Regions from separate parts of the Homo sapiens genome. Here regions 2 and 3 are each linked to region 1. The links come from fine-mapping of genetic effects on gene expression. A gene starts in region 1. Each other region holds a variant in brackets. All regions are shown on one strand. Distances are between the middles of the regions. Region 1 holds the start of MAMLD1 (mastermind like domain containing 1). Region 2 overlaps MAMLD1 (mastermind like domain containing 1). Region 3 overlaps MTM1 (myotubularin 1).

The links. PIP is the estimated chance that this variant, and not a neighbour inherited with it, causes the effect.
Region 2: its variant is the best candidate, but not a certain one, in a credible set for the expression of MAMLD1 in left ventricle (GTEx, PIP 0.60).
Region 3: its variant is the best candidate, but not a certain one, in a credible set for the expression of MAMLD1 in whole blood (TOPMed, PIP 0.51).

Annotation. Positions count from the first base shown.
Region 1 is chrX:150,362,016-150,364,776 of GRCh38, reverse strand. It overlaps MAMLD1 (mastermind like domain containing 1), which reads right to left and starts at 1,460. Exons shown (of 8, transcript NM_005491.5): 1 at 1,247-1,460.
Region 2 is chrX:150,494,329-150,497,089 of GRCh38, reverse strand. The region is part of intron 5 of MAMLD1 (mastermind like domain containing 1); the gene reads right to left. LOC124905223 (a long non-coding RNA gene) reads right to left here. Exons shown (of 2, transcript XR_007068346.1): 2 at 1-2,761. Among named protein-coding and RNA genes, the nearest start is that of MTM1, 73 kb to the left of the region's middle. The variant G/A (reference allele first, on the strand shown) is at 1,510.
Region 3 is chrX:150,667,682-150,670,442 of GRCh38, reverse strand. The region is part of intron 14 of MTM1 (myotubularin 1); the gene reads right to left. Among named protein-coding and RNA genes, the nearest start is that of MTMR1, 24 kb to the left of the region's middle. The variant TA/A (reference allele first, on the strand shown) is at 1,526.

The sequences.
Region 1 (2,761 bases):
TCTCAGGGAGACTTTGCGCCTTTGTTCCAGCGCAGCCGCCTCTAGTAAGCTCGGCTCGCTCGCCCTTGCAGACAATGTCCCGGAGCCGGCCTGGGTTTGCCTACCCGTGAGCAGCACGTTCACCGTGGGGACCGCGCCCCCGGGGGGCACCGTGGTGCCAAACAACAACGACAAGCCACCCCAGCAAAAGCAGCCCCTTCTCCCCACGTCCCCCAGCCACGCTGTGCTCCCGCCCGCTCACACACACCCACACTCCGGGTGCCCAGGTCAGCCGCACCCAGCTGCAGAAGCGCGGCGGGGCGGGAGTGAATGCTCCAGCCCGAGGCGCGTGTTTGCACAGGTTCCGATGGCTTCAGGGCCGAGCTTTCTGGCAGGCTAATCCTATTAGTGTCTGCTCAGTCCGAATTTAATCACGGATCAGAATCAGACGACATCTCCAGCTTTCCAGGAGGCTTCGGACACACTGCATTGGGACGGAGCCTGGCCAAGCCAACTGGCCGAGAAAAGTATTTGGCGGCGCTCCGGGGGGCTTCCCGCCCGCGCTAGCCGGCGCCGGGCGCCCAGCTCTGTCGTCGCGCGGATGCTGGGGAACCTGAAGCGCGGACTCTGACGCAGGGGCGCCGGGGCTGCTCCGCAGGAACCCAGTCCGGGCTGCCCTGAACACCAGCTCAGCTCCGGGCTGCGCTTCCCAGGAGTTGGCAGGGGAGGGAGTGCAGGGCAGCGGATTCGGCGCGCACACTCCACACTCTCGCTCAGAGGCGGCAAACAGCGTTGGGGTGGGGAAATCCTTCATCCAGCGCCCACTGCCTACTGGCCTGGGCTCAGGCAGCTGGCATGTGAAGGCACCGTCGCCGGTGACACCCAGGCTGCAAGCGACCCGGGGGTGCTGGGACAGAGTGGGAGCCTCCCAGTAGCCCAGCGTAGCCCGAGGAGCTTGCGCCCTTCTACCTTTCCTCCCCGGTACGTGGCTGTCCCCGCCGGATTTCAGACGCCCGACGGGCGCCGAGCCAAAGGCCGTGGTCTCCGGCGTTTCGAGCTGCGCCCAGCCCAGCCGGGCTGGTTCGAGAAGGGGGTGGCCGCCCGCAGCGCCAGGTGGGCCGTGTGCTCAGAGCAAACTTTAGGGTCTACCGACTCGAAGCACCCCTGGGACCCCGATCCTCAGCGATGGGGACCATAACTGGGGGCTACAAGTGTACCCCGGAACCCCCAGAACAGTCAGACTTCCTGCACCCGCCCTCAGCCTTACCGTGCTGCAGAGCTCCGGCGGCGGCGGGGGCAGTGTCCGAGGGGCGGGCGGCCGCCGGCGCGGGCAGCCTGGACTCAGGCGGCCGCCAAGGAACCCAGCCCTGTTGCAGATCACCCCCTGGCTAGCGGCCGGTGCCCCCGCGCCCGCCCGCCGCCGGCCGCTTCAGCTCGCGGCCAAGTTCATGCTGGCGGCGCTGCAGTGGCGGCCTCAATCTGCTCGCTCCATTCCCACCGCCCGGCTCCGCGCCGCGCGCCCGGAAGGTGGAGTTTCGGGGGTTTAAGTTACTGATAGGCATTTCTCACTGCTGTGTCACTCGGGGAGGAGGAGACACGCACGCCGCACACTCACACACCCTCACACTCACGGCGACGAGCGGCTCCGGCCTTAAAGGGGAAGCCGCGCTGCCCTGCCCGCGACCCCGCCAGCCCGAAGCCTGGAAACTCAGGGTTTCCACTCCGGGATGGGGCAGCGGGCAGCCAAAGAGCTGCGGCCGCCCGAGGGGCCTCCCGGGCCCTCCCACCAGTCTTTAGAGGAGAAAGCGGCCGCAGGCTGGCTTCGCTGTTGCAGCCTCATTTCTCCAGTCGGCTCGAACCAGGGCAGCTGGGGAGGGATCGGAGGGGCGGAAGGGGCATCGGTGCACTCACCTTGGCTGCTCCGCACTCAGTGGAGGGTGGTCTGTGCCCCCGGCGTCAGCTGGCTTGCCTAGGCGGTGCGCTGGTGGAAAGAGGCGACAGCAGGGTTAGCGGAGCGCCTCCAGCAGACAGAGCCCGCCGGAGGGCCGCAGGCGGGGCCCGGCGCGCTTGGGAAACCCGCACGCCGAAGGTAGACTTTCCGCGTCTGGGGAAAACGAGCTGGTGAGCCGTGCGTGGCCGGGACACACGAAGAGCGAGCACGGAGAGCCAAAAGCCAGCGGTCATCAGTGACAGGGCGAGAGAGCGCTCAGGACCGAGAGACCAAGAAAGACAGGAGACCGTACGAGACACAGAGAAGGCAGAGACTGAGAGACAGATACCGAGAGAGGCACCGGCGGAGATAGAGGTAGAGACACGATGAAGGGAGAGGAGAGGAGAGGAGATGAGAGGAGAGGAGAGGAGAGGAGGAAATAAGGAGAGGAGGAGAGGGACCAGAGAACAAGAGAGCTTGCAAGAGGAATGACAGATCCCCAGAGGACCCTGAAGTGTCACAGGGACGGGAGTCTCATCACAAAGTAGCCTATTCAGCCCCCATCCCCCTTCCCATTTTCACCAGAGCCTGACCCTAGGGCTAGCGGCCAGGCCCTTCTCCTCCCCTCGCCCTGGGAGGGGCACTCACCTGCAGTGGGTGGCTGCTGGGTGGGTAGCGCCAGTCCCTCCGCCCACGCATCCGCTCACCAGCTCGCGCCCTGACTGCCAAACAGACCCGCTGTGGCGGCAGCGGGGACCAGGGCTCTCAGGTGGCAGTTAGTGAACTGCATTCTCTCCATCCCGGCCGAGTGCCCCACTCCCCACTTCCCAGTCCCCCACCCTTAGCGCGGAC
Region 2 (2,761 bases), 130 kb before region 1:
TTAACTTTAACATTTCAAAATATGTTTAGGGCTGACTGAAATTGACTGGGTCCAAAATCAAATTCACTTCATCATGTAAATTCTCAGATTTGAAATTTAATTAGAGAATTAAGTTCAACTGATAAATTGCTACTTTGACAAGGGGAAAAATAACCCAATAACAAAATGGTAGAATCCATAATGTATAAAGAAATGAAGGAATTACTATCCCCTGGGCAGTTACCTCACTGTGGCACATTCCTGTGGATATCCCATAGTGCTTGGCATAGAGTGAATCTGCAGTATACTTCCCACTTCTGAGGTTGAGGCTGTGGGGCATTTTCACAGTGACCAAGGCTGTGCCTGTTGTCAGCAATGCTGGGTAATGAGGTTGGTGGGCCACTGGGCATCATGCTACTTGGGGGAGCATCAGGGACGGGGTAAAAGAGGAAGGGCATCAAGGCTCTCCAGAGTCTAGAGTTTTAGTAGCCAACAACGGCCTGTGGCAATCGTTGCCCTGACAGTTTCTGGAAGGTTTCTATTTTCTCATGATGATGACGATAATGATGATGACAATAGCTACCATGTATTGAACACATACAATGTGCCAGGCACTGAGTGAAACGCTGTAAATGTTTACTAAGTGAAACATTCAATACCCATGGCAAGCCTGAAAGATGGGTACCATTATGATCCCCACTTAACAGGTGGGGAAAATAAGGTTCAGAAAAGCAAAGTAACTTGCTCAAAGTCACACCATATGTAACTGGCAGAGCTGGAAGCTGAACCTGGAGTTGACTTACATGAAAATCCAGGCTCTTAACCGCAAATACTACAAATGCTTCAATATGAAGCAATATTCAAAACATAACCCTCACCCCAACCCCCACCTGCCTTCCCAGCCTCAAATTCTCTCAGTATCTCCCTGATGGCACCTTGGGCTTCCAAGGGAGCCATCCAACTAACCGTCATGTTCGGGCAACCGAAGAAGGGAGTGGCAGGATTTCCTTTGGAGACTTCTGGAATTAGACAGCAGTTTAATGCAAGCATCTAAATTCTCTTCCTCCCAGAGTCTCATTAAAACTACAGTAAGAGTTTGTGTTTTGTTTTGTTTTTAAAGACAAAATCCCACCAGGATAGAGAGAATAGGAGAGGAGATAACAGCATCATAATTTATGAAACTAAAATGCAGATAGACCAGGATTAACTGACTACACAGCACCAAGGAAGCTGAATCACAAGACAGCAGAGGAGAAAACTGGAAAGGATCGTGGTCTATACGGCAGAATCTTCCCAAGCCTCAGGAGGAGGAGCTCTAGATGTTCCCAGATCTGGGAGGTAAAGTGGAATGGGGGGACATGGTCAGCGTAATGGGGTTGGGCTGGAAGCTGGTTAAGGAGCAGGCAGATCTCTGAATCCCCTCTCTGACTCTGTGTCCCCAGGCATCTGCCTGTCCCCCACCCTGGAAGAGGTCTGGCTTGACCCTTTGTCTGGTGAATTTCCTGCTCTGCTTTCCTGGTCCTGCTGGCC[G/A]GATCAGTGGAGGCCACTCACTTCACCCCACAGGGATGTTCTGTGTTGCCCTACACCTGGGAACTGGAGGTACTGGAGGCAGGCTGTGGTGAGCTTGAAAGCAAAACACAGAGGGCAGTCCAATCTCTTTGGCCATATTTCTTCTGCATATCCAATACCATGTCCACAACTCTGCTAGTGTCCTGATGGTGGTGGGCTCTACACATTCCCGGGAAGCTGAAGGCAGATAATGACCAGGACAGGTCAACCTCTCTTCTTCTGAAAGCCTTCATCTACTAATGGCCTGGGACTCTTCCCTTAAATGCTTAGATTGTGTCTTCCACTAAGGTTTTTTGCTGTTGCTGTTGTTTGTTTGTTTGTTTGTTTGTTTGTTTTGAGACGGAATCTCACTCTGTCGCCCAGGCTGGAGTGTAGTGGCACAATCTCAGCTCACCACAACCTTCACCTCCTAGGTTGAAGGGATTCTCCTGCCTCAGCCTCCTGAGTAGCTAGGATTACAGGCACATGCCACCATGCCTGGCTAATTTTTGTATTTTTAGTAGAGACAGGATTTCGCCATGTTGGCCAGGCTGGTCTTGAACTCCTGACCTCAGGTGATCTGCCTACCTTGGTCTCCCAAAGTGCTGGGATTACAGGTGTGAGCCACCACACCCGGCCAAGGTTTTTGTTTGTTTGTTTGTTTGTTTGTTTTGTATTGAGGCAGGGTATCACTCTGGTCACCCAGGCTGGAGTGCAGTAGTGCAATCACGGCTCACTGAAACCTCCACCTCCCTGGCGGGCTCAGGTGATCCTGCCACCTCAGCTTCCCAGGTAGCTGGGACTACAGGCTTGTACCACCACTCCCAGCTAATTTTTGCGTTTTTAGTAGAGACAGGGTTTCCCCATGTTGCCCAGGTTGGTCTCAAACTCTGGGCTCAAGCGATCTGCCTGCCTCAGCCTCCCAAAGTGCTGGGATTACAGGTGTAAGCCACCGTACCCGGCCCCGCCACTAAGGTTTTGAAAATGAAGCAATTACAAGTTTAAGTCTATTAATAAGTGATGAAGCTATGTAGAAAAGCAGAATAATTATCTTGGATCAGGAAGGTCACATGAGGATCTACTTGGGGGTTGTCAATATTCTATTTCTTGACCTGATCAGTGTTGACAGCAGGTTTTAATTTTTTACTTCTTTTTGTTTGTTTGTTTTTGAGACGGAGTCTTGCTCTGTCTCCCAGGCTGGAGTGCAGTGGTATGATCTCGGCTCACTGCAACC
Region 3 (2,761 bases), 310 kb before region 1:
ATGCTGGGTTTGCCCCCTCACCTTCTGTGTGCCTCCATTTCCCTATCTGTAAAATGGGAATCAAAACAGCATAGCCCTCACATGGCATTGTGTGAGTGAAGTGAGTTAATAGCATCTGTTTTGCTACAATGGTGACTACTTTGATGAGTAAACAAGGGATTGATGTTGATACAAAGGCAGAAGTCAGGCTGGAGCATAACGTGACTCTCCCAGCATGTTAAGTTTTAAAAGTTTTGTACTGAGATATAAACCACACACAGTGCAAAATCTTCAGATGTTCAGCTCAGTGAATCTTGACATACGTATACATTTAGGTAATCACACCCAGGTCAAGATATACAACAGAACAGTACTCCAGAAAGTTAATGTTTTGAAGGGATCAGGGGCAAGCACTTTCTAGAAAGCTTAAGCAATATATGAAGACCTTAATGTAAAACCCAAAACCATGAAAACCCTAGAAGAAAACCTAGGCAATACCATTCAGGACATAGGCATGGGGAAAGACTTCATGACAAAAACACCAAAAACAATTGCAACAAAAGCCAAAATTGACAAATGGGATCTAATTAAACTAAAGAGCTTCTGCACAGCAAAAGAAACTAGCATCAGAGTGAACAGGCAATCTATAGAATAAGAGAAAATTTTTGCAATCTACTCATCTGACAAAGGTCTAATATTCAGAATTTACAAGGAACTTAAACATATTTATAAAAATAAAAGATAAACAACCCCATCAGAAAGTAGGCAAAGGATATGAACAGACACTTCTCAAAAGAAGACACACAATGCGGCCAACAAAGATATGAAAAAAAGCTCATCATCACTGATCATCAGAGAAATGCAAATCAAAACCGCAGTGAGATACCATCTCATGCCAGTCAGAATGGCGATTATTAAAAAGTCAGGAAATGATAGATGCTGGCGAGGCTGTGGAGAAACAGGAACACTTTTACACTGTTGGTGGGAGTGTAAATTAGTTCAACCATTGTGGAAGACAGTGTGGCGATTCCTCAAGGATCTAGAACCAGACATACCGTTAGACCCAGCAATCCCATTATACTCAAAGGAATATAAATCATTCTACTATAAAGACACATGCACACATGTTTACTGCAGCACTATTTACAATAGCAAAGACATAGAACCAACCCAAATGCCCATCAGTGATAGACTGGATAAAGAAAATGCAGTACATATACACCATGGAATACTATGCAGCCATAAAAAGGAATGAGATCATGTCCTTTGCAGGGACATGGATGCAGCTGGAAGCCATCATCCTCATCAAACTAACACAGCAACAGAAAACCAAACACTGCATGTTCTCACTCATAAGTGGGAGGTGAACATTGAGAACACATGGACACAGAGAGGGGAACACACACACCAGGGCCTGTTGGGGAGTGGGGGGTGAGGGGAGGGAACTTAGAGGATGGATCAATAGGTGCAGCAAACCACTATGGCACACGTATACCTATGTAACAAACCTGCACGTTCTGCACATGTATCCCCCCACCCTTTTTTT[TA/A]GAAGAAAGAAAAGAAAAAAAAAGAAAAAAGCCAAACGTCTACAGAAGTGCCTTCCACATGTAGTGGTTTCCAGAACCATCCTGCTTTCTACTGTGTTGAACTATTTGCTGAAGCTGTGCACACCAACAAGGAAGCTGTGAAGACAATGCACTGATGAAGAATGCTGCGGTTTAGTATTACGTTTCTGTTTTTTTTTTAAAGAGACAGGGTCTCACTTTGTTGCCAGGCTGGAGTGCAGTGCAATCGTAGCTCAGCAAAATCTTGAACACTGTAACCTCGAACTCCTGGGCTCAGGCGATCCTCCTGCCTCAGCTGGCCAAGTAGCTAGGACTGCAAGCATGCACTGCCATGCCTGGCTACTTAAAACATTTTTTTTTTTTTTTTTGTAGAGATGGAGGAGGGGGTCTCACTATGTTGCCTAGGCTGGTCTCGAATTTCTGGGCTCAGGTGATCCTCCTGCCTTAGCCTACCAAAGTGCAGAGATTGCAGATGTGAGCCACTGTATCTGGCCTGGATCCAATTTTTAATGTTCAGGAGAATGGTCTCTATTAGAAGCAGACACTTTCTAGAACCTGTATCCTAGAGAAGGGAGCATGAGCCATGAGGTTGCCCTAAAAAATTTAACACAAACTTGCGTGGCTTTTAAAACAACAGAAATTTACTCTCTGATGGTTCTGCAGGGCAGATGCCCCAAATTAGGGTGTCAGCAGGGCCATACACCCTCTGGAGGCTTTAGGGGAGAATTCTTTTTCACCTCTTCCAGCTTCTAGTGGCTCCAGGTGTTCCTTGGCTTATGGCAGCATCGCTGCAATCTCTGCCTGTTTTCACATGGCCTTCTCTCCTCTATGTCTGGGTCTCAAATCTTCCCCTCCTTTCTCTTAGGAGGACATCTGTCATTGGATTTAGGGCCCACCCACCCTAAATCTAGAATGATCTCATCTTGAGATCCTAAACTTAATCACAACTGCAAAGATCCTTTTCCCAAATATGGTCACATTCACAGGCTGTGGGTCGCTGTCCTTTGGGGGACACACCATTCTACCCACTACAGGCAGCCAAGGCGTGAATCAGCTAAAGCCAGGTACAAATGCAGCAGACATGGAACCGTGCCCACATTTCTACTGCGATTGCTGCTTTCATTAGTGCTCTGGTTACAAAGGCCCATAGGATTGCAGAAGCCTCTTAATCCCATTCTCCCTATGATCACTGTGACTTTTAGTGTGTGGCCTGGCAG